5 linked regions of the Homo sapiens genome follow. The protein of the gene in region 1 purifies or fractionates together with the protein of each later gene. This does not show direct contact. Each region holds a gene or a part of one and is shown in the gene's direction. Other genes may lie near its edges.

Region 1 (5,449 bases):
TTCTTTAGTCCAAATATATTATAGCGTCCTTCTTTTACTATGTTAGGATTTTTTTTCAAGGACATTTTCTTCATTTTGCTTCCTACAGCTGTCTACAAAATGAATGAAATTTAATAATTTCTAAAAGACTGTGAATTTATTCCAGAATATATTCTACATCAATGTATTTTCAGTATAAATATATAATAAAAAATTCAAGAGAGGCCAGGTGCAGTGGCTCATGCCTGTCATCTCAGCACTTTGGGAGGCTGAGGCAGGTGACTTGAGGTCAGACATGCCTGGCCAACATGGCGAAACCCCATCTCTACTAAAAATACAAAAATTAGCCAGGTATGGTGGCACGTGCCTGTAATCCCAGCTACTTGGGAGGTTGAGGCAGGAGAATCGCTTGAACCCGGGAGACAGAGGTTGCAGTGAGCCAAGCTCGCCCCACTGCACTCCAGCCTGAGTGACAGAGCAAGACTCTGTCTCAGAAACAAACAAACAAAACCAAAAATTGAAGAGGCTCTACATGGTGTTATCATTCTCCAAAGAAAGCTTTTTAAATTTCTTCATCTAGTTCAATGTTACTATCTAGTATCATTTTTCTTCAGTCTAAAGAATATTTAGTATTTCTTTTTTTCCTCTTTCAGCTCACCGAGAAGTACCAGGGCAGTGAATATTTAGTATTTCTTATAGTACACATCTGCTGATAGTGAATTATCTCAGCTTTTGTCTGAAAACATCTTTATTTAAAATTCATTTGTGAGAAATATTTTTGCTGAGGATAGAATTCTATATTGGCAGTGATTTTATTTTTCTCTTTAAAAATGTCATTCCATTGTTTTTCTGATACCCATAGTGAGTTGTCAGTCTTGTGGTTGCTCCTTTGAAAGAAATTTGTCTTTCATTCTCTGGCAAGGTTTTCAGATTTATTTTTATTTTTATTTTTTTTTGAGACAGAGTCTCACTCTGTCACCTGGGCTGGAGTGCAGTGGCACAATCTCGGCTCACTACAACCTCCGCCTCCCAGATTCAAGCGATTCTCCTGCCTCAGCCTCCCGCCACCACACCCAGCTAATTTTTGTATTTTTAGTAGAGGCGGAGTTTCTCCATGTTGGCCAGGCTGGTCTGGAACTCCTGACCTCAGGTGATCCACCTGCCTCAGCCTCCCAAAGTGCTGGGATGACAGGCATGAGCCACCGCACCCGGCCGGTTTTCAGATTTTTTCTTTGACTTTGGTTTTCATCAGTTTCACTGTGATGTGCCCAGTGTAGTTTTCTTTGCCTATGTGGGGTTTATTGAGCTTTTTGAAATTGTGAGTTAATGCTTTTTGTTAGTTTTGTAAAATTCTATGCTATTATCTCTTCAAATATTGCTTCTGCCTTATTCAGTCTTTCCTCTGGCTTGTGTGACTGTATGCTATACATCTGCTGTGTTCTTTTAGGGATTTCTTAAAATTCCTTTTCTCACACTGTATTTCGGTAGGATGTTTTTCTAATGATCTTTTAGTTAACTATTTCTTTTCTTTTTTTTTTTTTTTTGTCTTGGAGGTTTTCTCTTGTTGCCCAGGTTGGGGTGCAATGGCACGATCTTGGCTCACTGCAACCTCTGCCTCCCAGGTTCAAGTGATTGATTCTCTTGCCTCAGCCTCCTAAGTAGCTGGGATTATAGGCATGCACCACCATGCCAGGCTAATTTTTGTATTTTTAGTAGAGATGGGGTTTCACCATGTTAGTCAGGCTGGTCTTGAACTCCTGACCTCAGGTGATCCACTCGCCTTGGCCTCCCAAAGTGGGATTACAGGCATGAGCCACTGCACCCAGTCTAGTTCATTATTTCTTCTGCTATATCTAGATTGCTGTTAAGACCATCTAATGACTTTTTAATTTCAGATATCATATATTTTTAGTTTTAAATGTCTATTTGTTTCTTTTTATAGATTGTAGTTTTCCACTGAACGATCTTTTTATCTGTTTTGTCTTTTCCTCTTATTTTCTTAAATATATTACTCATAGTAATTTTTTAAATTCCTGTTTGATGATGCCAATATCCAAATCACTTTGGGAATGATTCTTTGCCTTTTATTTTCCTTAGTTTTTAGTTATTCTTGCCTGTTTTTTTTTTTTTTAACATAACATGTGGACATGGACAAAAAATTATAGAGGCTCTGCATGACATTATCATTCTCCAAAGACAGTTTTCTTCTGGTAGACAGAGTACTGGCAGATCACTTTGATCTTAAGGCTTGGTTTTGGGTGTTGTTAAAGCTGCTTGTTTTGGCTTTGAATTTATTCCTAGGGCATGGCCCTTACCTCTAGATTGTAGCCCTTCTGGGTTGTTACCTAATGTTCCTCATTGACCTTTTGGGAGTTTGAACTCTAATCTCTCTCTCAGCACTGTGTGTCTGATAAAAATTTCAGCGCAGTTCTTGAATTTCTGAATTCCGGTTTTTTGCTGGTCCCTTGGAATCTCTTCCATACACACACAACTTAGAAGATGGCCAGTGATTTAAGGATAATTTGTAGGCAAATTTTAGAGGTACTTTTTGGTCTCTAATTCACTCTTCTCTAGAGTTTTTGCCTCTCGTGTCCCACCCATTTTGGTAGCCCTGAATTAACTTTTCTCTCTTCAGCTTAGTCAAATAGCCATTTTCTGGTTGGGCTCAACTCCTCCATGCTGTCATTTGAAAAATGGTCTTAGTAAAAGAGCCAAGGCTTGTAATCCCTCAGGTTCTTCCTGCTTGTGTTGATTATCCTCCAGTGCCTTCGAACAGTTGTTTTATAAATGTTGTGTAGCTTTTCAATATAGTTGTTTTCGGCTGGGTGTGGTAGCTCACGCCTGTAATCCCAGCACTTTAGGAGGCCGAGGCAGGGGGATAACCTGAGGTCGGGAGATTGAGACCAGCCTGACCAACATGGAGAAATCCCATCTCTACTGAAAATACAAAGTTAGCTGGGCGTGGTGGCGCATGCCTGTAATCCCAGCTACTCTGGAGGCTGAGAGAGAAGAATTGCTCAAACCTGGGAGGCGGAGGTTGCGGTGAGCTGAGATCGTGCCATTGCACTCTAGCCTGGGCAACAAGAGCGAAACTCCGTCTCAAAAAAAAAAAAAACATGTATGTGTGTGTGTGTGTGTATATATATATACACACATATATATATACACACACATATATATATACACACACATATATACACACATATATATGTGTATATATATACACACATATATATATGTATATATATATGGAGAGAGAGAGAGAGAGCTGTTTTCTATGGGAAGATTAGTCTAATACAAGCTGTTCTGTCATGGCAGGACCCAAAAGTCCTACATCTAGATTTTTATTTTTATAAGCATTATTTGAACTGTAAATAATTGATTTTTTTAATCTTTTTTTCTTCAGATTTTTGTACCTCTTAAGAGCTGTATAACTCAGACCAAATATGCAGTGTATTTTTCAGAACTGATCCCTATATGTCTAGCAAAGTAAAAATTTTTGGCCATATATTCTAGTATAACAAATATTACAAACTTGTTACTTATGTTTGAACCAAAAGCATGCATAATAAAATGAGAAATTTTTTTAGCTTATCTAGTAAAAATATAACTAATGTTATGTAAAGTATGTAAGTTCCTGAAAGTGTTATTTCCTGATCTCTTATTTTGTGTGAAATATATGCTCTAACATTATGGATGTTTGCAGGTCTCGACACAGGCGATTTTCTTATAGCCAGTCTAAATCTCGTTCCAAATCATTACCAAGGCGGTCTACCTCAGCAAGGCAGTCAAGAACTCCAAGAAGGAATTTTGGCTCTAGAGGACGGTCAAGGTCCAAGTCCTTACAAAAGAGGTCCAAGTCAATAGGAAAATCACAGTCAAGTTCACCTCAAAAGCAGACTAGCTCAGGAACAAAATCAAGATCACATGGAAGACATTCTGACTCAATAGCAAGATCCCCGTGTAAATCTCCCAAAGGGTATACCAATTCTGAAACTAAAGTACAAACAGCAAAGCATTCTCATTTTCGGTCACATTCCAGATCTCGAAGTTATCGTCATAAAAACAGTTGGTGAACAGCAACAGAAAGAGCACCACGCCGTCTTTAATATAAGTTATTAAACTCTCATTATGTTAAATAAAAATTCTTTAAGGCATACAGAAAATGCGAGTTGATATTAGTTACTTTGGGCATATGGAAGAAATAAAATCTCTAGCTTTGGATTAATAAAAATTTGGTCTCCATTTAAAGGGCCCACACTACAAATTATGATTTGTCTAATGTCACCATTTTATGGACCATTTTTTATTTACATTGTGGCAGAAGGGTACTTTTCAAGGGAAATGAGTAAACTGGAACTAATTTTTAAAATTCTACTTGCATAGTATTAGTACTATTAATAATACCTTTTACACAAATATTTTTGACTTTAAAGCACTTTCATGTAAAAAGTAACTATGACTGTATAATTGCATAGAGCAGACTTAAGCTGTTTGACACCTATGTCTCTTTTGTGTCTTCTGTTTAAACTTGGGCCAATTCCTGGTGGATATTAGTTCATATTACAAAATTCTGATGTTCCAAAAAGTAGAATATATATAGAGATCAAACATTCAAAAGATACATTCTCTCCTAAGCTCAAAGGTTATATTTTTATTGGGTAGAACAGTATAGGTAAGTTGACATGAAATTGCATCCTGCACCATGACCACATTAGTAATATCAGAACTTTTGAGAAATACTGGATTTTGAATGGTTTGAGACTAATTCTTTAAAAATTAGGCTGAGCAACACTCACAATCCAAAAATATTCATATTAAGACTTACACATTTGAAGAATGGTACATTTTGTATAAAATCATATTTGATACCATTATTTCCACATACCTACTTTTCATCTGTTGCTTAATTTTTTCTTTTTAGAGTTCTTGCTCAACTTTATATGGAACAAGTCTTATTATTTTTGAAAGAGTGTTTAGTACCTTGTATTAAGAAACTTGGCCAAGCGTGGTGGTTCACTCCTGTAATCCCAGCACTTTGGGAGGTCGAGGCGGGCAGATTGCTTGAGGCCAGGAGATTGAGACCAGCCTGGGCAACATGGTGAAATCCTGTCTCTAAAATTTAAAAAAAAGAAGAAGAAGAAACTCGAGACTACATCTTCAAAAAACAACTTTGCAGTATTTGAATTTTACATTATACTGCCCTTCATTTCTGACAGCCAAATAACTTTATTGATATTTATTGCTTTTGTAGTTGTTATAACTAATAATTTCTTTGAAAATGTGTTGTAGTTTATGTTTTTCAAAGGGTTTTGGTAGTGTTTGTGATAGAATGGTTTTGCATATGATTATTATAGGGGATATATTTATAGAGCTCTACTTGTATACTTTGTGACTTACATTATGAAAACTTCAAAGTTCTCAATCCATACAGTTAGTATTTGTATCCAGAGTGTTTAAGAAAAAAATC
Region 2 (6,143 bases), on another chromosome or scaffold:
TTGAGGTTCTTTTCTAGCTCTTGATCACATTCATACATAATTTTTGATGGATTAGGTAGAATTTTCTATTCAGATGAATTTTTTGTGGATCCGTGTGTTCTGTTTAGCCTGCGGTAGTCAACACAGCAAAACTTTAATCAATCCATCTTGGATATTCTATTTTTCTTTTTTTTGTTTGAGAGGGAGTCTTACTCTGTCACCCAGGCTGGAATGCAGTGGTGTGATCCTGGGTCACTGCAGCATCTGCCTCCTGGGTTCAAGCGATTCTCCTGCCTCAGCCTCCTCAGTATCTGGGATTACAGGTGTGTGCCACCACGCTGGACTAATTTTTGTATTTTTAGTAGAGATGGGGTTTTGCTGTGTTGGCCAGGCTGGTCTCAAACTCCTGACCTCAAGTGATCCACCTGCTTTGGCCTCCCAAAGTGCTGGGATTACAGGCGGATATTATTCTAATTTGATAGCAAGGATTACATCTTTCCCTATGACATCATAGCATCAAGGTCAGCGTTTTGTACAGGGTTAGATATTTGGCAAATATGATTCTTAGTATTTTGAGAAAGGTATTGTAAATATGATATGATCGTTACTTTACAGATCATTGTTTTTGTATACTCTGTGTGTATTTTGAAAATTTTTACTTAATTAGAACACTAGTATTTGTAGGGCAAAGTCTGGGTACAGTAGGACTCACCAAAAACCGAAGAGGAAGGCCAGTCACAAGGAGAAGGTTCAGGGCCTAGTTTCTCCTTGAAGGCTGAGAAGTACAAGATCCTCTTTGATTTTATAGTGTATAAGTTGAAAAAAGCAGAAACCTGAAAGATTTTTCCCCAGTAAGCATGACCGCAGCCCTTTTCTCCGTAACCTCTTTTGGGCTTTGTTGAAAGGTGTGGCTCTGCACTGGGGCAGCCATGTCAACGCCTGGAAGAACTCATGTCGCCTGGCATCTCTCCTTAGTTAGGCTGACTCTGTAGTCTTTCGTGCAACAGACTATTTTTTGGTATTTGAAAAGTTGTTTAAAGTCCTGTCCATTCTGTGAACTCTTCTCTGGTGAATTTTTTTCTTATTTCCAGTTTTGCAAGAGGGCTAAGTTATGGTAGCTGCACCATATTGCCCGTTGCTATTATAGTCCCAGGTCCAGCATTCTCCCCCAGGAAAGCCACTACCCACACAGGTCACAAATGGGATTTTTGTATTTATTCACTGGCTGGCTGAATATAAGGTAGGAGGGCCTTTAATTTTGACTGTAAGATGGCCGGGCATGGTGGCTCATGCCTGTAATCCCAGCACTTTGGGAGGACAAGGTGGGCGGATCACCTGAGGTCAGGAGTTCGAGACCAGCCTGGCCAATATGATGAAACCCCATCTCTATTAAAAATACAAAAATCAGCCAGGCGTGGTGGCAGGCGCCTGTAATCCCAGCTGCTTGGGGGGCTGAGGCAGGAGAATCACTTGAACCCAGGCGGAGGTTGCAGTGAGCCGAGATTGGGCCACTGCACCCCAGCCTGGGCGACAGAAAGAGACTCTGTCTCAATTAAAAAAAAACACACACACGCATTTTGACCGTAAGAATTCTCAAATGTTTGTTTTATTATTTAAATTTTTTTCTTAGAAAATGATTGTAGGCAAGATGTTAATGAAACATCAATGTATTTCAAAGTTCTCTTCAGTTTTAAGTAGAACATTTGAAAAATTAAGCCAGTAAACCTAAATTGATTAGATAACCAGTAGATATGTCTCCCTCGGGGAAATGTATAGGGGCTTTTTTTTTTTTAACTTTGTGGTTTTTTAAAAGTTCTAAAATTTTTTCTACATTAAAAACACATTGCTCAAGTTCTACTCTGAAAAAAATCCACATTGCTCTTATAAGCTGGAAAAACTTCAGAGCATACTTTTTTTGGGGGGGAGGTGTGATACTTGCATAATAGAACATTACTTTTTTTTAATTTTATTATTATTATTTTTTTTGAGACAGAGTCTTGCTTTGTTGCCCAGGCTGGAGTGCAGTGGCGCGATCTCGGCTCACTGCAACCTCCTCTTGGGTTCAAGCGATTCTTCTGCCTCAGCCTCCTGAATAGCTGGGACTACAGGCGCCCACCACCATGCCTGGCTAATTTTTGTATTTTTAGTAGAGACGGGGTTTCACCATATTGGCCAGGCTGGTCTCAAACTCCTGACCTTGTGATCTGCCTGCCTTGGCCTCCCAAAGTGCTGGGATTACAGGCGTGAGCCACCACACCTGGCCAAACATTACTATTTTAAAGTGAATAACTCAGTGGCATTTGGCACGGTAATAATGTGGTGTGAGCACCGCTTCCATCTAGTTCTGTATGATCTTAATAAGAAACCCAAACAATGCATATTTGGAAACTGGTATCATTAATTGCTTCCACGTGGGTGAATCGGGGACTTTTCAGTTTACTCTTTTAAGTGTTTCATGTTTTATACCCCCTGAAGATGCCATCCATTACAATAAAACAAAATTCAGCCTCTGAGAGGGACGTTTCTTCCCCATACACCGCAGCAAACTTTCCCTCTCTCCCCATTGATAACGTTGTGGTCATATGGTGGCCTGAATAAAATACTTTTATTTCAACTTGCTGTTAAATGTGGTCTTTTGGGTTTTAAACTTAAAATCATTTCCAACTACAGTCAAAATTTAAATGTGGTGGCTCATGCCTATAATCCCTGTGCTTTGGGAGGCTGAAGCAGGGGGATCACTTGAGGCCAGGAGTTCCAAACCAGCCTTGGCCATATAGCAAGACCCTGTCTCTATGCAAAACAGACAAAATTAGCTGGGTGTATTGGCATGCACCTGTGGTCCTAACTACTTGGGAGGCTGAGGCAGGAGTATCACTGGAGCCCAGGAGTTCGAGGCTGCAGTGAGCTATGACGTGCCACTGCACTCCAGCCTGGGTGACAGAGTGAGATGCTGTCTCTTTACACACACACACATGTATATATTTATTTATTTTTGAGAGTCTCATACTGTCACCTAGGCTGGAGTGCAGTGGCAAGACTTCAGCTCACTGCAACCTCTGCCTCCTGGGTTCAAGCAATTCTTGTGCTTCAGCCTCCCAAGTAGCTGGCATTACAGGCACGTGCCACCACACCCGGCTAATTTTTGTATTTTTAGTAGAGAGGGGTTTCACCATGTTGGCCAGGCTGGTCTTGAACTCCTGACCTCAAGTTATCCACCTGCCTTGGCCTCCCAAAGTGCTGGGATTACAGGCGTGAACCACCATGCCCAGCAACTCCCCCCAAAAAATTTTTAATGTAAGTTTATACTTAAAGTGAAGTTTATAAATAGGTTTTGATTGCACTTGGGTAGGAAGGTATTATGTTATAGCTTGTAAGACTTTTTGGAGGCTTTGTAATCAACAGATTAAAGGATGATTGCCATTTGAGTTTTGGTGTAATGACATTTGACTGATGGGGGTGGAATTGTCAGCTTTGACTTCCCCGCTGCCTGTGTGTTTCTCACGGTCATTCTTACTCTCTTTGCAGCGAGGCTCTCTTCTTAGTGAGCCTGCAATCCAGGTGAGAAGAAAAGGAAAAGGAAAGCAGATTTGGTCTTTGGAAAAACTGGACAACAGGCTGTTGGATATGAGAGACCTTTATCAGGAGTGGAAAGAGTGTGAAGAAGATAACCCAGTAAGTTATTTAAGAGAAAATCACTTAATTGGTAATTATGGAAGGAGCCAAGCTGGAATGAGTCTACCCATTTCAGGGGAAAATTGTTCTTTTTCCAAAATTATAATCCTATTTCTGGAGTAAGGTTTATTTTAATCCCCTAAATTGTTTAGCAAATTAACAATTTTAATAATCTCTCTTTCTGGTATCTTCTTTTTTCTTCTCATTTCTGTCTTTTAGATTTCTAGCAGAATTCTCCACTTTCCATTCTGACTTCTGTTGGTGTGCGGGTGTCTGTCTCCTGTGCTCTCTGGGAACCTCTTTAGGACAGAGGCCAGGCCTCATTATTTGTCTCTCCTCCCATTGCTCAACCCGTTTAACCTTGCAGATAATAAACCTACAATATATGTTTTGTAAGTTGAACATCGGTGGTATCTTAATATTTACACTCCAAGGAGCATTTTTGAAGAAGTTTTGATCATAACATAAATGCCATAAATCTATACATTGGTACTCTGTCCTTAACTTGCAGGTTTTCTTACTTAGATCAGCCATGTACTCATACGTATTTAAAATAGAAGTGCATATTATGTATGTCTGAACATATTTTCATTACCGTTAGACCTGTTTCCGCATAGAGTTGTTTACTTCCTTTGCCTTTTGTTTTGTAAAAATGATTTTTCCAGATTGTTATCAATAAAAATGTTTCTTATAGTTAGGTGATGTTTTTGCTTAAAACATGTTTGTCTCTTTGGTACCCCTCTCCTATTTCAACTTAGAAATAAAACAACAGTAATAAATAATGAAAGAGCCACTCCCATAGGGGCTCACCTTTTTTTTTTTTTAGATGGAGTCTTGCTCTGTCATCCAGGCTGGAGTGCAGTGGCACGATCTTGGCTCACTGCCTCCTCTGCCTCCTGGGTTCAAGTGATTTTCCTGCCTCAGCCTCCCGAGTAGCTGGGATTACAGGCGCCCACCACCACACCTGGCTAATTTTTGTATTTTTATTAGAGACGGGATTTCACCATGTTGGGCAGGCTGGTCTCAAACTCTTGACCTCAGGTGACCCGCCTGCCTTGGCCTCCCAAAGTGCTGGGATTATAGGTGTGAGGGCTCACCTTTTATTAGCAGCAGTTTTATCTGATGACTTGCTAGGAATAAGCAGAGCAGATAAGAATTACTGTCTTTCCCAAAAGAAAGGTGAAGTGTAGTTTAGCACACTCTACTTCTTTTTCTGGTCAACATATATTGTTTATTTTGTGGCAAAATTTCCATGTAAAGGAGAATAGCTGATAAAAGTAATGACCTGTTACTGGGATCGCTCTGTCATGGGTGGAGGATGCTCACCTCCATTGTGAATGGGAATGAGGAAGAGTGTGTATGGGAGTAATACAGCGCTGTGCTTTAGCAAAAACTTTAGAATGTTTTACTCTAAAAAATACAAGAGTTAGGATGATGAAAGTTAAGTTTAATAACCTAGAGTGCATCAAAAAGCAGTAGGTTGAATGCATTTATTGTAAATGGTTTTTCTGAAGTTGTGTGTTCTCAATCTCTTTACAGGTAATACGATCATACTTCAAACGTGCTGATCCATTCTATGATGAGCAGGAAAATCACAGTCTCATTGGGGTGGCCAATGTCTTCCTCGAGTCACTTTTCTATGATGTGAAGTTACAATACGCTGTTCCCATCATCAACCAGAAAGGAGAGGTTGGTTTTCTCTTCATGCCTTGTTTCCTGTAGAGAATAGTTTAAGAAACAAGAGGGTGGTGATGGGATATTGTTGCTATTTTTTGTCAGTAACGTGTCTTATTAATACCTTGTGTTTCCAAGGACTCTTAGGGTAGAGTAACTGTCAGAGACTAGGCCTCTAAATTCCCATACACCATTAACCTGACAACTTGACTGTAAAAGAGAAGAGAGGTCATCTCAAGGGAGCACGAACCAAATCTGGAGAAATGTTTCTGCCTTCCCTCATTGCTGCAGGTGGCAGGTCGGCTGCACGTGGAGGTGATGCGACTCAGTGGTGATGTTGGGGAGAGGATCGCAGGAGGCGATGAGGTGGCAGAGGTCTCCTTTGAGAAGGAGACCCAGGAGAACAAACTGGTGTGCATGGTAAGTCCCAGCTTCATCCTAGTATTACGTTGATACAAAAGTCATTGCAGTTTTTGCCATTACTTTTAATGGCAAAAATCACAATTACTTTTGCACCAACCTAATAGCTGATTTTGAGAACTGCAGGTCTTTAGATGGTAAGTATTATGTTCCTTTTCAAATTTTGGAAGTAGAGCAGAGCCTCCCCCACTCATGATAATGCAAAATCGCCTCCTCCATTTCCAAACACCCGCTAGTGAGCCAGACCTGCTGGTGGCTGAGAATCCCTGCAGGAACAGTTCTTATAAAAAGAAGGTGCTGGGGGACAGGAAGTCAGCGAGGGGCGCAGGTGCAATGTACAAGTGAGAAGGAGGTGAGGTGAAGCGAAGAAGGCCTAAACCTGACTCTTAATTCATAGC
Region 3 (6,143 bases), on another chromosome or scaffold:
AATAAATTTATATAACAGTGAAAAGTCGGCTGGGCGCGGTGGCTCATGCCTGTAATCCCAGCACTTTGGGAGGCCGAGGCGGGCGGATCACGAGGTCCGGAGATCTAGACCATCCTGACTAACACGGTGAAACCCCGTCTCTACTAAAAATACAAAAAATTAGCAGGGCGTGGTGGCACATGTATGTCGTCCCAGCTACTCAGGAGGCGGAGGCAGGAGAAGGGCGTGAACCCGGGAGGTGGAGCTTCAGTGAGCCGAGATCGCGCCACTGCACTCCAGCGTGGGCGACAGAGCGAGACTCCATCTCAAAAAAAAACAAAAAACAAAAAACAAAACAGTGAAAAATCTTACTTCCATCTCTGTTCTTTATTAACCTGGTTCCATGCCCTCTCCCAAACACTTTGAATAGTCTCTTTATATTCTTTTAGACTTTATTTTTTATTTTTAATTTAATTTGATTTAATTAATTAATTTATTTATTTTGAGACGGAGTCTCGCTCTGTTGCCCAGGCTGGAGTGCAGTGGCGCGATCTCGGCTCACTGCAAGCTCCGCCTCCCGGGTTCACGCCATTCTCCTGCCTCGGCCTCCCGAGTAGCTGGGACTACAGGCGCCCGCCACCAGGCCCGGCTAATTTTTTGTATTTTTAGTAGAGACAGGGTTTCACTATGTTAGCCAGGATGGTCTCGATCTCCTGACCTTGTGATCTACCCGCCTCGGCCTCCCAAAGTGCTGGGATTACAGACTTGGGCCACCGCGCCCGGCCCTTTATTTTTTATTTTTGAGACAAGAGTCTCACTCTGTCGCCCAGGCTGGTGTGCAGTGGCGCAGTCTCGGCTTTCTGCAACTTCCGCCTTCCGGGTTGAAGCGATTCTCCAGCCTCAGCCTCCTGAGTAGCTGAGTAGCCGTGCACCACCACGCCCGGCTAATTTTTTAATTTTTAGTAGACACGTGGTTTCACCGTGTTGGCCAGGCTAGACTTGAACTCCTGACCTCAAGTGATCTGCCCGCCTCAGCCTCCCAAAGTGCTGGGATTACAGGCATGAGCCACCGCGTTCGGCCTCTTTTAGACTTTCTTTAGGCGAATGCTTACAAATAAGAATATATGGCTGGGCGTGGTGGCTCACGCCTGTAACTCCAGCACTTTGGGCGGCAGAGGCCGGTGGATCACCTGAGGTCAGGAGTTTGAGACCAGCCTGGCCAACATGGTGAAACCCCGTCTCTACTAAAAATACAAAAATTAGCCAGGCATGGTGGCAGGTGCCTGTAATCTCAGTTACTCGGGAGGCCGAGGTAGGAGAATCACTTGAACCAGGAAGGCGCAGGTTGCAGTGAGCCGAGATCGCGCCGCTGTACTCCAGCTTAGGCGACAAGAGGGAGACTCCATCTCAAAAAAAAAAAAAAAAAAAAAGAAGAATTAAAAATGAAATGATACAGTTGGCCCTTGAACAAAACAGGGGTTGGGAAGCCAACCCCTGTGCGGTAGAAAATCCAAGTATAATTTTTTTTTTTTTTAAGACAGAATCTCTTGCTGTTGCGCAGGTTGGAGTGCAGTAGCAGGATCATGGCTCGATGTAGACTCAACTTTGTAGACTCAAGTGATCCTCCCTTTTTAGCCTCCTGAATGAGTAGCTGGGACCACAGGTGCATGCCACCATGCCTGGCTAATTTTTTTTTTTTTGTAGAGACAGGGCCTCCCTATGTTGCCTAGGCTGGTCTCAAACTCCTGGGCATCAACACTCCTCCCATTTCAGCCTCCGGAAGTGCTGGAATTACTGGCATGAGCCACTGTGCCTTGGCCCCAAATATAATTTTTGACCCCCCCTCCGCCGCCCCCTCGCGGCAAAACTTAACTACTGCTGTTGGTGATGGTGTTGCATAACCTGGCTTCATTAATTTCCTTTTTTTTTTTTTCTTTTTTCTGAGACGGAGTTTCGTTCTTGTTGCCCAGGCTGTAGTGCAATGGCACAGCTCACTGCAACCTCTGCCTGCCGGGTTCAAGCAGTTCTCCCTCTTCAGCCTCCCGAGTAGCTGGGTTTACAGGTGTGCGCCACCATGCCCAACTAATTTTTTTGTATTTTTAGTAGAGACAGGGTTTCACCATGTTGGCCAGGCTGGTCTTGAACTCTTGACCTCAGGCCATCCGCCTGCCTCGGCCTCCCAAAGTGCTGGGATTACAGGTGTGAGCCACCACGCCCGGCTCCTCTTTTTTGTTGTTGTTGTTTTTTTTTTTTTGAGACGAAGTCTCTCTCTATTGTCCAGGCTGGAGTGCAGTGGTGTGATCTCAGCTCATTGCAAGCTCCACCTCCTGGGTTCACGCCATTCTCCTGCCTCAGCCTCCTGAGTAGCTGGGATTACAGGTACCCGCTACCATGCCCGGCTAATTTTTTTTGTATTTTTAGTAGAGATGGGGTTTCGCCGTGTTAGCCAGGATGGTCTTGATCTCCTGACCTTGTGATCTGCCCGCCTCAGCCTCCCAAAGTGCTGAGATTACAGGCGTCAGCTACTGCGCCCGGACATTTTTTTTTTTTTTTTGAATTGGAGTTTTGTTCTTGTCACCCAGACTGGAGTGCAATGGCGCCATCTCAGCTCACTGCAACCTCCACCTCCTGGGTTCAAGCAATTCTCCTGCCTCAGCCTCCCGAGTAGCTGGGATTACAGGGGCCTGCCACCACGCCCAGCTAATTTTTGTATATTTAGTAGAGACAGGGTTTCACCATGTTAGCCAGGCTGGTTTCAAATTCCTGACCTCAGGTGATCCACCCCCCTTGGCCTCCCAGGGTGCCTGGATTACAGGTGTGAGCAACCACGCCTGGCCCCAGGTATAATTTTTGACTTCCCGCAAAACTTAACTGCTGTTGCTGTTGGCATTGCATAGCCTGGCTTCATGAATTTACTTTTTTTTTTTTTTTTTTAATGGCTGACCACTACTGCTGCAGATCTCAATCTGTGGTACATATCAAGCAATTCAAATTTTTATTTATTTATTTTTTTGAGACAGGGGCAGTTGCCCAGGCTGGAGTGCAGTGGTCTGATCATAGCTCACTATGGCCTCGACCTCCCAGGCTCAAGCCATCCTCCCATCTCAGTCTCCTGAGTAGCTGGGACTACAGGTGTGTGCCACCACTCCAGGATAAGTTTTTATTTTTTTGTAGAGGCATGGTCTCACTATGTTACCGTGGCTGGTCTCAAACTCCTGGGCTCAAGCAATCCTCCTGCCTTCAGCCTCCCAAAGTCCTGAGATCACAAGTGTGAGCCACCATGCCTGGCCAACTTTTTCGTATAATGTCATGACCTTTCTGTTTCTTGAGAGCACTTCCAGCATTAGTGGCACTTGGTATGGATCTCATGGTGTTATTCAGGGTTTACAGTATTGCACTAAGCATGATGAAAAATATGCACGAACCTTGAGAGATCACTTTTTACTGTGACACTTTTTACTGGAGGAAGGAACTGCTCACGTGGAGACGATTAGCATCACACAGCATTTTAGGGGCTACTCACAACACTTGCTCACTGAAACAGCAACAGGAGGTGGCTCCAGAATTATTACAGAAGTACAGTATATACTATAGTCAATTTTATGCAGTTGTGATTTAATACTGCACCTTTCCATTTGTTTACTGTTGACTATGAATGGCACCATGTATGGTTTGTATTTGTGTGCATAAGTTTTTATACATTTTAACTTTTTATAATAGATTTGTATATATCTTATAGTAAATAATAAAATAGACTAGTATCTACATATATTTTCTGCATTCATGGCATACCTAACTTTTTCTTAATTTTTTTGATGTTTCTAGGCTAGGTGTTTTGTTTCTGAGTTTTTTTCAAAATGTTATACATCTCCAAAAATTTAAAAAATATATTTGTTGAAAAAAATCTGTATGTAATACAGCTTTGCCTGTAGTTTCAGCTACTCCAGAGGCTGATGTGGGAGGATTACTCGAGGCCTGGAGTTTGAGGCCATAGTGTGCTATGATCACACTTGTGAATAACTACAGCACATGAGTGGACCTGTACAGTTCAAACCCGTGTTGTTCAAGGGTCAATTGTATAGTCCTGTTTTTCCCACTTTTCATGTACAGTTGCCCATGGTTCCCCACTGTTCTGCACTTCCCACCCCCAATCTTGCTTATTTTTTTTTTGAGACGGAGTGTTGCTCTGTCGCCCAGGCTGGAGTGCAGTGGCGCAATCTTGGCTCACTGCAAACTCCGCCTCCTGGGTTCACGCCATTCTCCTGCCTCAGCCTCCCGAGTAGCTGGGACTACAGGCGCCTGCTACCACGCCTGGCTAATTTTTTGTATTTTTAGTGGAGATGGGGTTTCACCGTATTAGCCAGGATGGTCTCGATCTCCTGACCTCGTGATCCGCCCACCTCGGCCTCCCAAAGTGCTGGGATTACAGGCGTGAGCCACCAGGCCCGGCCGCTTATTTACTTTATATATCTTAGAGACCTTTCCAGATCAGTACATAGAGAGCTTCCTCATTCTTTTTTTTTGGTTATATATATTATTATTTTTTTGAGACAGAATCTCACTTCATCACCCAGGCTGGAGTGCAGTGGTGCGATCTCAGCTCACTGCAACCTCCATTTCCCGGGTTCAAGTGATTCTCCTGCCTCAGCCTCCTGAGTAGCTGGGATTACAGGTGTGCACCACCACACCTGGCTAATTTTTGTATTTTTAGTAAAGACGGGGTTTAACCATGTTGGTCAGGCTAGTCTCGAACTCCTGACCTCAGGTGATCCACCCACCTTGGCCTCCCAAAGTGCTGGGATTACAAGTGTGAGCCACTGTGGCCTATATATATATTATTTATTTATTCATTTATTATTATTATTATTTTCTTTTTAATCACCTGCATAGTATTCCATTGAATGGATGTATCATAATTTATTTAACTAATTCCTTATAATGGACATTTATGTTTCCAGTGTTTTGATATTATAAACAATGCTGTAAAAAGGGCCTTTGAATGTGTCATTTTATATGTGTGCAAGGATATTTGTGGGATAAATTCACAGAAGTGAGATTTCTTTTTTTTTTTTTTTTGGAGACTGAGTTTTGCTCTGTTGCCCACACTGGAGTGCAGTGGCGCAATCTTGGCTCACTGCAACCTCCACCTCCTAGGTTCAAGCAATTCTTCTGCCTCAGCCTCCTGAGTAGCTGGGACTACAGGTGTGTGCCACCACGCCCAGCTAATTTTTATATTTTAATAGAGATGGGGTTTCACCCTATTGGCCAGGCTGATCTCGAACTCCTGACCTTGTGATCCGCCCACCTCGGCCTCCCAAAGTGCTGGGATTACAGGTGTGAGCCACCATGCCCGGCCCTCAGTCTTTTCTTTTATAGCTTTTGGATATTGAGTAAAAAAGATAGAAGAGCCTGACTGGGCGTGGTGGCTCACGCCTATAATCCCAGCACTTTTTGGGAGGCTGAGGCGGGTGGATCACCTGAGGTCAGGAGTTCGAGACCAGCTGACCAACATGGTGAAATCACGTCTCTACTAAAAATACAAAAATTAGCCGGGTGTGGTGGCATGCGCCTGTAGTTCCAGCTACTCGGGAGGCTGAGACAGGAGAATGGCTTGAACCAGGGAGATGGAGGTTGCAGTGAGCCGAGATCTATCTTGCCACTGCACTCTGGCCTGGGCAACAGAGTGAGACTCCATCTCAAAAAAAAAAAAAAAAAAAAAAAGAAGGGCCTTCTGCATTTCAGTCCTTTATTTTTTTAATCTATCCGATGGGAACAAGAAAACAATTATTGTGAAGATCAAAATGCTCTGTGAACTGTAAACTGTAAATCATTATACAGATTAAATATGGTGTTATTTATTAATTTGTCTTTGGAACAAGTGTGGAGGCTATTCTCTCTTCCTCTGAATTAAATAAAATAGAATAATATAATTTTTTGGGGGGGCTGGGCGTGGTGGCGCATGCCTGTAACAGCTGCTTTGGAGGGTAAGGCAGGAGAATTGCTTGAACACAGGAGGCAGAGGTTGCAGTGAGTCGAGATTGAGCCATTGCACTCCAACCTGGGCAACAAGAGCAAAAACTCCGTCTCCAAAAAAAAAAAATTTTTTTTTTCTTTCTGCAGTATGGAAAACTAGGGTGGTATTGATCTTGTGGTCAGTGTTTTCC
Region 4 (6,143 bases), on another chromosome or scaffold:
AAGGGGAGCAGGCACATCACATGGTGAAAGCAGGAGCAAGCGAGAGAGAGAGTGTGTGTGTGAGTGACTTGGGGGGAAGGTGCCACACACTTTTAAACCACCAGATCTCACAGGAACTCAGTATCAGGAAGATGGCACCAAGGCATGAGGAATCTGCCCCCATGATCCAAACACCTCCCACCAGGCCCCACCTCTAGCACTGGGGATTACAATTCAACATAAAATTTGGGCAGGGACAACTATCCAAACTGTATTATCATTTTAAGCTAAAAGCAGTCTTACTGCAGATATTATTGCCATGGTTCTACCAGCATGGATAAAAGGACTCTGAAAAGTTAGGTGAATTGGCCATGTCAGAAGCTAGTACATGATAGAAGAGGGACTAGAATACGAGCTTCTTAACAGCTTATCTCTTTTATTTGCAGATATTAGACTGGTTATATGAAAACTTACCGTTACAAAATGATATTTTCTTAACCCAAGTAAATAAAATAGAATGAACTATATATAATATATATAATGAACTATATATAATTCTTCAAGATTCTAATGCATGCTTGTTTAGAGCTTGCTGTTAACCTAAGCAATGAGATAGCAATCCCTTTCATTATTTGTTGACTCCCCTTAATAGAGTACCTAATGAACATTGCCAACTTAAGAAAAAAATGTTTTTTTTTCTGCAATGTCAGCTCTGAAATTCAGCTTTGTTGCCTCTTTATAGGACAATTGCAGGCGAGCTGAAAATGTTCTTCGTTTATGGATCATTGAAGCCAAGGACCTTGCCCCTAAAAAGAAATATTTCTGCGAACTGTGCCTTGATGATACCCTCTTTGCTCGTACAACCAGCAAGACCAAAGCAGACAATATTTTCTGGGGCGAACATTTTGAATTCTTCAGCCTTCCACCTCTTCATAGTATCACAGTTCACATTTACAAGGATGTGGAAAAAAAGAAAAAAAAGGACAAGAATAATTATGTAGGGCTAGTCAACATCCCCACTGCCAGTGTGACTGGTCGCCAATTTGTAGAAAAGTGGTATCCAGTGAGTACACCTACACCCAACAAAGGAAAGACAGGAGGACCTTCTATTCGGATTAAATCACGTTTCCAAACTATCACCATTCTGCCTATGGAGCAATACAAAGAATTTGCAGAATTTGTCACCAGCAACTACACCATGCTGTGTTCTGTCCTTGAGCCAGTAATTAGTGTGAGAAATAAAGAGGAGTTGGCTTGTGCCTTAGTGCACATTCTTCAAAGTACTGGCAGAGCCAAGGTAAGTGGAAAAGGGGGATTGCAGTACCTGAAGTCTCTTCCCTACCTTTCATAAACCAAGATATGGATATTGTAGAAATCCAAATTAGAGAAATGTGCTTTACTATTGGTCAAAACAAGAAGAATTAAGAAGAAAACCTATTAGATCCAGAAAAGATGAAGATTATAAAACTAAACAAGTAAAATGGAGAGACCAGCAAATATTTAAAGCCAATTTGCATGAAACATAGATAACACAGCCAGCTCTTTCTTGTCTGACAAAATAAATGGTAGGATTGGCACGATAACCCTACAGCATGTTCAAGGTTCCTTATCTTTAATTTAGTTCTAGAGTGTTGTATGGTGGTTTTCTTCCTCACTGTATTTTATTTAAGTTTAACTGATGACTGTATCCTCTAGGCACAGAAGGAAGTATTCCAGAAGCATATTGAGTATTAGCAAGAGTCTTTGTGGGATTAAAATCTATATTTAGAATAAAAATCCAAGGGATATGATACAATTGGTAGCTGTTTCATGATACACTTATTTCACCTTGGATAGAAGTAAAAACTCAGGAATATTTTTTATTTAAAGGAGAAATATGCTGGTTGTGGGAAGAACAAAAACTAGTTGAGAGAGTCTTTGACCTATGAAGGATATTAACTAGGAAGAGTTACCGTTATACTGTATGCAAACTGGTCATGATAAAATTACATCTCAGATCCAAAGAAACTCACAGCTAGAATAATGTATTTAGAACCAAACAAAGTACTATTACTATTTCTTGATATGTCGGAATATATCAATATATTCAATATTTAGTCTCTTATCTGGCTTCTATGGATTATAACTTTTGTGTTTAAATTTACTTATGATAATCTTGGGCATTCTGTCATTAAAAAGCTTATGAGTTTGGAGCGAGGTGTCACTGAAATTTTGAATTGTATGGATATATTTCTACTTTTCAGTTGCTCAAGGTTCAGAATATACATTAAGACTTTTTTAAATGACTTAATACTGATTTACGTACATTTTAGGTAGAATAAACACCCATTTAAAGTGGAAAAGTTCAGTAAGCTTTGACCGATTTTGCACCCATCGAAACCACCACTATGATCAAGATACAGAATGTTACCGTTACCCCCAAGAGTTTCCTCCTGTCTCTTAGCATTAAGTTTAATAGTGATTCCTAAGTCTACAACTCTGTTATACTGTTAAGCTGCCCCAGAGTAAGTCCCATTGATGTTTAAAATGCTTAATTTTAAAGTAAAAGTAAATCAGCATATTCCTCCTATTTTGGCATTTGCAGCCCTTGAAATATCCAATAATTATATAGCATTCAAAATATATGATGTTATCACATTCAAACTGAACAACCAACATTGAGCTTTACTAGAAGTTCTTTAAGACTGTTGAGGAATGAAGCAGCTGTTTCTTTGCACCTTTATTTCCCCTTATGCTATCCTTCTGGATTGATGGATGGATGGACGGATGGATGGGTGGGCGGGCAGACAGAAAGATAGCCTAGACAATGACTTCAAGTGATGAGTTCAGTAGATTCTACATTGACACTGTGGACCGATTTGTAAGTATTATATATTGAACACCTAATATATGCCAGAAACTGTTAGGTGCTGGAGATATGGTGGTAAACAAAAACAGAAACTGGTTTTCTGGGGAAAATAAATATTAATCAAGTAATTACAGAAATAAATATGATTACAGTGAGAACTACAGAGGATAAAAAGAGAGATGATACTATGAAATGGAGCAAGGGGAGCTGACTAATGGAGTTCAGGGGCAATGTTGGTCAGGGACACCTTCACTGAGGAAATGATGTGTGAACTAAAATCCAAAGGATCCCAGGAATGAGCTACCTGACAGTGGGAGTGGAAGCAAGGGTGGGAGCAGAGCAGAACTGAGAACAGTATTTGGAAAAAAAAAAAAAAAGGCTTTGTGGTGAATAGAGAACATTGTGTGTGTTAGAAAGGGCTTGGTGTATTAAAGGACCTAAAAAGAAAAGGTACAAGGCTTGAAAGGTAGACAGAAACCAGAAAATATAGGGACTTGTAGACTGCATTCAGAATTATGGCCTTTATCAAAAGTGCAATGGAAAATCTTTGAGGGAATTTTAAATGTAGGGGTAGGAACACCTAACATTTTATCCTGATTGCTTTTTTTCCTTTCAGATGAATCTGATAGCTTTAGTTTTAAAGCAGCATTTCCAGGATGTCTGATATTTCAAAAGTCTCTTCTAATGTGTATTATTTATTCAGTTGCTTTCTGCCTGATTGAACATTATTCTACCAGGATTTTCTGACTGACTTGGTGATGTCTGAGGTGGATCGTTGTGGAGAGCATGATGTCTTGATCTTCAGAGAGAACACTATTGCCACCAAATCCATTGAGGAATACCTCAAGTTGGTGGGACAACAGTATCTTCATGACGCACTGGGTATGAAAGAGAAAAACATCTATTTTCTTTTATTTACTTTTCAGTTTTAAGCTATTTCACCCCCATGAGACGAATTGAGCTCAAATTCTGCATGTTATTTAGTTCTAGCTGACTCAGGTGTTAAGGTTTGAATCATGGCTGTAAGAAGTCTGCAGTACTCACCAGTAGAGAAATAATAATAAATGTAGAAACAGAAACCTTGTCAGCATACACTGCTACCCCAGGTCCCCAGCTTCATGATTCCAGGATGCACAGTAATATCAGCAGTGTCCACTGATAGATCTGAGGTGGTCTGTTTTGCCCAAAGTTTTGGGTGTTTATATGATGATATTATTACCTAGTCTTGAGAGTGTTACCCTGACATTTGTTATCATGCATGCAAAACTCTAATCAAAAGTGAAGAAACTCTTGCCACTTCCCACAACTCCCCCACAAATTTCTGCCTTTCTCTAGAATTTTTAACATAACTAATTTTTGTCCAATCAGTAGTTCTTGCTGACTAGGCTACGCACTTGCAGTTCCAGATTTGGTCATGAAATTGAGGCATTAACCGCTAGAGTAAGGTACTGTGCTGGTCACTTTAATATACATCATGATAGAGCAGATGTGAGTTCCTTGAAGGAAATAGCCCTTTGTTTTACCTCCATATCCCCACTACCTGCACACACTGTTGAGCAGCACTGTCCGATAGAAATATGACCCATGTGTGAATACTTTTATTTATTTTTATTTTTTGAGTAATTGTAAATTTTCTAGTAGTCACAGTATTAAAAAGGATGAAGAGAAACAGGTGAAATTGATAACATATTTCATTTGACCCAGTATATCCAAATACTATTTAATGGTTTAGAAGAATAAAAGTTATTAATTAGGTGTTTTACTTTTTTATTCTTTTTGAAAATCAGTGTGTATTTCACATGTATCACACATTTTAATTTGCACAAGCCATTTCTAATGCTCAACAGCCACGTGTGACTATCAAGAATAGAAAGTAAAAACATGTTGAATGATTGGAGAGATTTTTACCCTCGAGAAGTTTGCAATGTAAGGATATAACATTAGGGATATCTCTATACCAAAAAGAGACATTCTGTGTTCTTTCAAATAATTTTAAAAAAATTGAATCCAGCTGATAGAATTGTCAAACTTTCTGTGTGAAATACATTTATGTTTTGTATGTAGTTTGATGAATAGAAAGGTTAAAAACAGACATTGAGCAAGAGCAGATAAGATAAGAAGTAGCATGGGGGAAAGGACCCATAAACAAAAAGACATAGAGGTGGGACAGAACCAGGAATGTGTGGAATAAAACTATTTAGCTGGAAAAAGACATGAAAGAAACATGTGAACAACAACAACAAAAAGATTAAACAATAATTAGAACTAATTTGTGAAAACCTCAAATGCCTGGGTGAAGATTTAAAGTTTACAGTAATAACTGGAGAGCCACTGAAAGTTTTGAGCAGGTGTTTTCAGTGGAATTAACTTAGCAGACTGATTAAGACGAGTTGTATCCAGGCATGGTGGCTCACATCTATAGTTCCAGCTACTCAGGAGGCCAAGGTAAGAGAACTGCTTGAGCCCAGGAGTTCGAGGCAGCAGTGAGCTATGGTCACATCACTGCACTCCAGCCTGGGTGACAGAGAAAGACCTTGTCTTAAAAAAAATAAATAAATAAATAAAGGTGAAGAAAGCCTACTGAAAGCCAATCAATTAAGAAGCCATTGTAGGCTGGGCGCGGTGGCTCACACTTGTAATCCCAACACTTTAGGAGGCCGAGGCAGGCCCACCACCCAAGGTCAGGAGTTCGAGACCAGCCTGGCCAACATGCTGAAACCCCATCTCTACTAAAAATACAAAAATTAGCCAGGCATGGTGGCGGGCACCTGTAATCCCAGCTAAGGAGGCTGAGGCAGGAGAATTGCTTGAACCAGAGAGGTGGAAGTTGCGGTAAGCCAAGATTATACCATTGCACTCCAGCCTGGGAGACAAGAGCAAAACTCCTTCTCTTAAAAAAAAAAAAAAAAAAAAAAAAAAAAGCCATTGTAATAAGAAAGAATGAGACTCTGAATGACTGTAATCATGCAAGTAAGAATAGAGAGGAAGACGGATATGAGAAATATTAAGGTTGAACTGATAGAACTTGGCAAATTTTTCAGTTTGTGGGAAGCAAGGAGGGAACGAATATTACAGAGAATTGTGGGGTGTTGTGAGTGACTAGGGGGATGATGAGATTCTTAACAGGAATAGAAACCACAGAAGTAGTAGGTGTGAAACAGTGGAAATTACATATATATTCAATTTGAAGTTCTAGTAGGAAATCTCAGGGGTTTTAGATAGGCAATCTAAGATACCTGTCTAGCTGGCTGTTGGAAATTTGAGACTAATTTATGCTTGTGGAGAGGTTAAATGAAGCTGTAAGATTACCAGAGCA
Region 5 (6,143 bases), on another chromosome or scaffold:
TCGAGCTTAGAAAACAATGCATGTGATCGAAAAGAAATGTGAATAGCAAAGATAGAATAAGAGGAAATTAATATAAATGGTAGAGGAGGCTAGTTTTGAGGCTAAGGGTAAACTTTCTGACTGAAACTTGTTAAACCCAAAAATGAACAGCCAGGCCAGGCACGGTGGCTCACGCCTATAATCCCAGCACTTTGGGAGGCTGAGGCGGGCAGATCACTTGAGGTCAGGGGTTCAAGACCAGCCTGGCCAACATGGTGAAACCCTGTCTCTACTTAAAAAAAAAAAAAAAATAGTAGCTGGGTGTCGTGGCGGGTGCCTGTAATCCCAGCTTCTTGAGAGGCTGAAGCAGGAGAATTGCTTGAACCTGGGAGGCGGAGGTTGCAGGGAGCTGTAATTGTGCCACTGCATTCCAGCCTGGGGCAACAGAGCAGGACTCCGTCTCAAAAAAAAAAAAAAAAAAAAAAAGAACAGCCAAATGAATGTTTGTAGAGCTCAAGCTACAAAGATATGGAGGTTGTAGTAAGTTCACTTAGTGCATGAAGTAGCGTTTTTGGATACAGATGTTTACAGATAAAGATGTTTAACAGCAGTATCTCCCTAATACCACAGACCTGATATTCCAAGCAATTGGCAGAGAAATGAATCCATTCAGCACAAATTTGGCCCCTCTACATGGCCACAGCACCTTAGATTTGGTTCACTTAACAGAAGAACAGTATGTTCTGTTTAGAAGCAGGACCCGATCCCAGGATAGGGTGAACTGCATAAACGGAGGCTCAATGAGAAATGATAAAAGTCTAAGAGGTTCTAGAAAAGAGAAATCTTTTTCTGGGCCTCATTACCAGTTATAGACATTTTTAGAAAAGGAGGGGGAGAATAGATGCAGAACGCGTCTAAAAATGAACAAAGATATGTTAATTTTAAGAATGGAGGTTGTTTACAGGGAGAGTAAATTGGTTTGTATAATTAGATTGATCCAAAAATTACCTTGCCTTTATAAAATACCTTTCTGTTAAGAAGATACAACGTTTTCTCTTGCCAGATAAAGGCAGAGTCTCTTCCTTTTGTAAAAGAACATCACCAAATTACAAGGAAGTTTAAGTCACACTTTGAGTTGCTGACAAACCTAGGACAAACCCCCAGGTTTTCTCCTTTTGGCTAGCCTATATACTGGTGCAGAGCCATTCTTGCATCAATGTGAAACATTTATTTTTTGCCTGGGCTTCTGTTTTAACGATTGACCTTCATCTCTCCTGTCCTGTAGCTGGGATGAAAGCAGCTCCATCAGTAGTGGACTCAGCGATGCCTCAGACAATCTCAGTTCAGAAGAATTCAATGCCAGCTCCTCACTCAACTCCCTCCCAAGTACTCCCACTGCTTCTCGCAGGAACTCAACAATAGTGGTACGTGAGTTTGCAAACACCCAAGCTGCCATCTCAAGATGAACCACAGGGCAAATGGCATTATCTGTGTATGGGGTTGCACGTACACACCCACTCCATGGGATTGGTTCTCATAGGCCTTTGGCCAGGTCATTTTAGAGTTGCCCCCACCCCCTCCCAAAAAAAGCTAAGGCTACTCACCCAAGACATTAGATGTTGTCATATTGTGTATACTTAGTGCCTACACCAATCTAGAGTGATACATGTAAGAGCTATTCCAACTGGAGAAAAAGAAACCCCGAGATATATGTCATCTGCTGTTGGAAACCCTAGGGGTATAGGTAGAAACCCTCAGTTTGACTTAATACTCTGAGATGAGCAGCGCCAGGTACTAACTAAAATCAATCCTGTCAGCTATCCAGTCTCCCATCTGCATAGAAGTATCTCACTCTGCCTTTTTCTCTTTTCTTTAGCTACGCACAGACTCAGAGAAGCGCTCACTGGCAGAAAGTGGGCTGAGCTGGTTTAGTGAATCAGAGGAGAAAGCCCCTAAAAAACTGGAGTACGACAGTGGTAGCCTGAAGATGGAACCTGGGACTTCTAAGTGGCGGAGGGAGCGGCCTGAGAGCTGTGATGATTCATCCAAGGGTGGAGAACTGAAAAAGCCCATCAGCCTGGGCCACCCTGGTTCCCTGAAGAAGGGCAAGACCCCACCTGTGGCTGTAACTTCCCCCATCACTCACACAGCCCAGAGTGCCCTCAAAGTCGCAGGTGAGCCTGGAATAAAGGAAGGTACAAGGGCAAAGACCTAGTTCTTTGGTTGCTCCTCTTCTTAGTGGTCATTAACCCATAGGATGATAGCAAACATTTGCATAGTGCTTTAACAGACATTATCTTATCTGGTCTAAGGACAGTCCCGTGAGTTAGGAAAGATGGGTGTTATTATTTCCATTTTACAAATGTGGAGGAAATAGAAACTCAAAGAGATTAAGTGGCTGGGCCAAAATCCCAGTTAATATGAGGTACAGGAGGAAGTATATTATGTTTAGAGACTAGTTTGGCCTCCTTCCAAACACTTCCAATGCTTGCTTTCTTCTTTCTCCCAAGTTAGTCACTCAAGGCACTTATTTTCATAGGATACAGCTTGACATCTCAGGAAGATCCTAAGAAAACAATAAATAAAATGGCTACAGCAAGAGAATTATAGTGCCCCCAAAGTTGGCCCCTTGGGTAACTTTTAGCCTTAATCAACATTTTCCTGTAGTCTCTAATTACTAAGAGATATTGTCATACTCTATTCCATTTGCTTCCCCACCTTTTTTTTCCCTTCCACAACTAGTTGTTAGATGGATATTCTTGATCATCTTTGTGTTTGCCTCTGCCTTTTTAATCAAAATGGACCATTCTACTCTGGGAGCAAAACAAAAAAAATTCCTAGCCTCCCCACCCCTCCCAGCCAGAGTCTTTCAGACAAGAAACTTTATCAGCTTATCTTGTACCTGTTTACCCAAATTTAGGCCTCTAAAAGTCTACAATACATGGACAATGTTCCCTTCTCCCATGGAGGGAAAGAAAAGGGTGGGTTTTTAAGATACTGGTCAGTTTCAGCTCTTTTCTCATTTCCCGTCCTCTTGCAGGCAAACCTGAGGGCAAAGCTACAGACAAGGGTAAGCTTGCAGTGAAGAATACTGGGCTCCAACGCTCCTCCTCTGATGCTGGTCGGGACCGCCTGAGTGATGCTAAGAAGCCCCCCTCGGGCATTGCTCGCCCCTCCACTTCGGGATCCTTTGGCTACAAGAAGCCTCCTCCTGCCACAGGCACAGCCACTGTCATGCAAACTGGTGGTTCAGCCACTCTCAGCAAGATCCAGAAGTCCTCAGGCATCCCTGTCAAGCCAGTAAATGGGCGCAAGACTAGCTTAGATGTTTCCAACAGTGCAGAGCCAGGATTCCTGGCTCCTGGAGCCCGTTCTAACATCCAGTACCGCAGCCTGCCCCGGCCAGCCAAGTCAAGTTCTATGAGCGTGACCGGCGGGCGGGGTGGACCTCGCCCTGTGAGCAGCAGCATTGACCCCAGTCTCCTCAGCACCAAGCAGGGAGGCCTTACGCCTTCCAGACTGAAGGAGCCTACCAAGGTAGCCAGTGGGCGGACCACTCCAGCCCCTGTCAATCAGACAGATCGGGAAAAGGAGAAGGCCAAAGCCAAGGCAGTGGCCTTGGACTCAGACAACATCTCCTTGAAGAGTATTGGCTCCCCAGAAAGTACTCCCAAGAACCAAGCAAGCCACCCCACAGCCACCAAGCTGGCAGAGCTGCCACCAACCCCTCTCAGGTACCCAATGTGGGCAGCCGCCTCCTTGTCTGTTTGCTTTGTCATTCTTTCGCATATCTCTGCCCTCCTTGGACTAGATGAGGCATGGCCTATCCACCGTTGTCTCTAGGCCTTTGCATGGCTCTTTCCCACCTCTCCCCCATATGCCAAGGTTCTGAAAGAATCTAGTTTCTGACAGTTCTGAAAGACTGAATCCCTCTTTCAAAACTTACCTCATTTGTACTATTCTCTGATCAATGCTTACCCTGTCTTCAGCACTTGTATGGGTGTTTTTACTGTTTATTTACACATATATACCTATTTGCATAAATTCACTTGTATCTCCCATGTGCATATGCTGGCCCCTTATCTAAGCTGAATGTGCCCCAAGTTGGGTATCAGATTTCCTTGCATTGTATTTCACAACAGCATTAGGATAAGCCTCTGTGCTTAGCAAATAGGCAGAAAACAAGACTGGATAGGATTTCTTTAAGGTCCTATCTGCCTCTCACTCTGTAATTCTATTATTCTAAATATTTCGTTTGATCTTCTCTCAGGGCCACAGCGAAGAGCTTTGTCAAACCACCCTCACTAGCCAATCTTGACAAGGTCAACTCCAACAGTCTGGATCTACCATCATCCAGTGATACCACCCATGCTTCAAAGGTCCCAGATCTGCATGCTACAAGCTCAGCATCTGGGGGCCCTCTCCCTTCCTGCTTCACCCCCAGTCCGGCACCCATCCTCAATATTAACTCAGCCAGCTTCTCCCAGGGCCTGGAGCTAATGAGTGGTTTCAGTGTGCCAAAAGAGACCCGCATGTACCCCAAACTCTCAGGCCTGCACAGGAGCATGGAGTCCCTCCAGATGCCAATGAGCCTCCCCAGTGCCTTCCCCAGCAGTACTCCCGTCCCCACCCCACCTGCTCCCCCTGCTGCTCCCACAGAAGAAGAGACGGAAGAGCTGACTTGGAGTGGAAGCCCCAGAGCTGGGCAACTGGACAGGTAGGTAGAAAAGACAGCAGAACCTCGGCCTGTCTCCGTGTCTTGGGCTCATTTTGCCATTGGCAATACTATCCTATATTTTATTGCCATTTTGTGACTTTTGACATTTTTTCACATATATTAAGTAATTTAATTTGCTTCACAACAACTCCATGAGATAGGTAAGATGTGTTTTTGTTTTTAAATTATTATTCTTATATTAAAAATGAAGAAACTTGTGCACAAAGAAGTTAAATGACTCATCCAAGATCTCATAATTAGGTTAACCTATCATCCAGAGCTTTTGCTTCCTAGTCCAAAATCATTTTGTTTTGTTTTGTTTGAGATGGAGTTTTGCTCTTGTTGCCCAGGCTGGAGTGCAGTGGTGCAGTCTTGGCTCACTGCAATCTCTGCCTCCCAGGTTCAAGCAGTTCTCCTGCTTCAGCCTGCTAAGTAGCTGGGATTACAGGCACTTGCCACCATGCACGGCTAATTTTTGTATTTTTAGTAGAGACCAGGTTTCACCATGTTGGCCAGGCTGGTCTTGAACTCCTGACCTCAAGTGATCTGCCTACATCAGCTTCCCAAAGTGCTGGGATTACAGGCATGAGCCACCACACCTGGCTGCCCAGAATCTTTTCTTTTATATCACATCCTAGTTTTCCCCTCCCTTCCCCCTATATGCCAAGGTTATCAAACTACCTATATGGTAGTTTTTACCTACCATAATACGATCTATTTTTTTTTTTTTTTTGAGATGGGGTCTCACTATGTTGCCCAGACTGGACTCAAAACTCCTTGGCTTAAGCAATCCTCCTGCCTCAGCCTCCCGGGAGCTGCAACTACAGGCTCATGCCACTGTCCCTAGTGCCATAATATGATCTTTTAAATAACTAACTATGCCTTAATTTCTTTTTTGTTTGTTTGTTTTTTGTTGTTGTTGTTGTTGTTTTGAGACGGAGTCTTGCTCTGTCGCCCAGGCTGGAGTGCAGTGGCGCGATCTTGGCTCACTTGCAAGTTCCACCTCCTGGGTTCATGCCATTCTCCTGCCTCAGCCTCCCGAGTAGCTGGGGACTACAGGCGCCCACCACTGCGTCTGGCTAATTTTTTGTATTTTTAGTAGAGACGAGGTTTCACCGTGTTAGCCAGGATGGTCTCGATCTCCCGACCTCGTGATCCACCCGCCTTGGCCTGCCAAAGTGCTGGGATTACAGGCGTGAGCTACGGCGCCCGGCCTAACCATGACTTAATTTCTAATCAGAGAAATAACATTTAATATTTCAGATAAATTTCCCAAGTTGTAAGCCAAGAAGCAGGCTATAGTATCTCTTGGTTTCTAGAGCTAAAGCAGGTCATAGTTTGATGTCCTGCGTCTAGGGTCTGCATACCTCACACCAATGGTCCTAAACTCTAGTTCCTAAGATGGACCCACATGCTTCTCTCTCTCTCTCTTTTTTTTTTTTTTTTT

The links.
Region 2: the proteins of SRSF12 (region 1) and KIF13B purify together in Homo sapiens (affinity purification with mass spectrometry, with the first as the bait; one large-scale study listed by BioGRID). This does not show direct contact.
Region 3: the proteins of SRSF12 (region 1) and TESK2 purify together in Homo sapiens (affinity purification with mass spectrometry, with the first as the bait; one large-scale study listed by BioGRID). This does not show direct contact.
Region 4: the proteins of SRSF12 (region 1) and RASAL2 purify together in Homo sapiens (affinity purification with mass spectrometry, with the first as the bait; one large-scale study listed by BioGRID). This does not show direct contact.
Region 5: the proteins of SRSF12 (region 1) and NAV1 purify together in Homo sapiens (affinity purification with mass spectrometry, with the first as the bait; one large-scale study listed by BioGRID). This does not show direct contact.

Annotation. Positions count from the first base shown.
Region 1 is NC_000006.12:89,097,184-89,102,632, reverse strand, and holds part of SRSF12 (serine/arginine-rich splicing factor 12), read left to right. Parts: intron 1-3,685; coding exon 3,686-4,055; 3' UTR 4,056-5,449. UniProt on the Homo sapiens protein: Splicing factor that seems to antagonize SR proteins in pre-mRNA splicing regulation.
Region 2 is NC_000008.11:29,139,665-29,145,807, reverse strand, and holds part of KIF13B (kinesin-like protein KIF13B), read left to right. Parts: intron 1-3,504; coding exon 3,505-3,651; intron 3,652-5,190; coding exon 5,191-5,340; intron 5,341-5,616; coding exon 5,617-5,745; intron 5,746-6,143. UniProt on the Homo sapiens protein: Involved in reorganization of the cortical cytoskeleton. Regulates axon formation by promoting the formation of extra axons. May be functionally important for the intracellular trafficking of MAGUKs and associated protein complexes.
Region 3 is NC_000001.11:45,479,371-45,485,513, reverse strand, and holds part of TESK2 (dual specificity testis-specific protein kinase 2), read left to right. Parts: intron 1-6,143. UniProt on the Homo sapiens protein: Dual specificity protein kinase activity catalyzing autophosphorylation and phosphorylation of exogenous substrates on both serine/threonine and tyrosine residues. Phosphorylates cofilin at 'Ser-3'. May play an important role in spermatogenesis.
Region 4 is NC_000001.11:178,441,954-178,448,096, forward strand, and holds part of RASAL2 (ras GTPase-activating protein nGAP), read left to right. Parts: intron 1-721; coding exon 722-1,276; intron 1,277-3,564; coding exon 3,565-3,709; intron 3,710-6,143. UniProt on the Homo sapiens protein: Inhibitory regulator of the Ras-cyclic AMP pathway.
Region 5 is NC_000001.11:201,779,157-201,785,299, forward strand, and holds part of NAV1 (neuron navigator 1), read left to right. Parts: intron 1-1,264; coding exon 1,265-1,403; intron 1,404-1,855; coding exon 1,856-2,153; intron 2,154-3,019; coding exon 3,020-3,713; intron 3,714-4,249; coding exon 4,250-4,696; intron 4,697-6,143. UniProt on the Homo sapiens protein: May be involved in neuronal migration.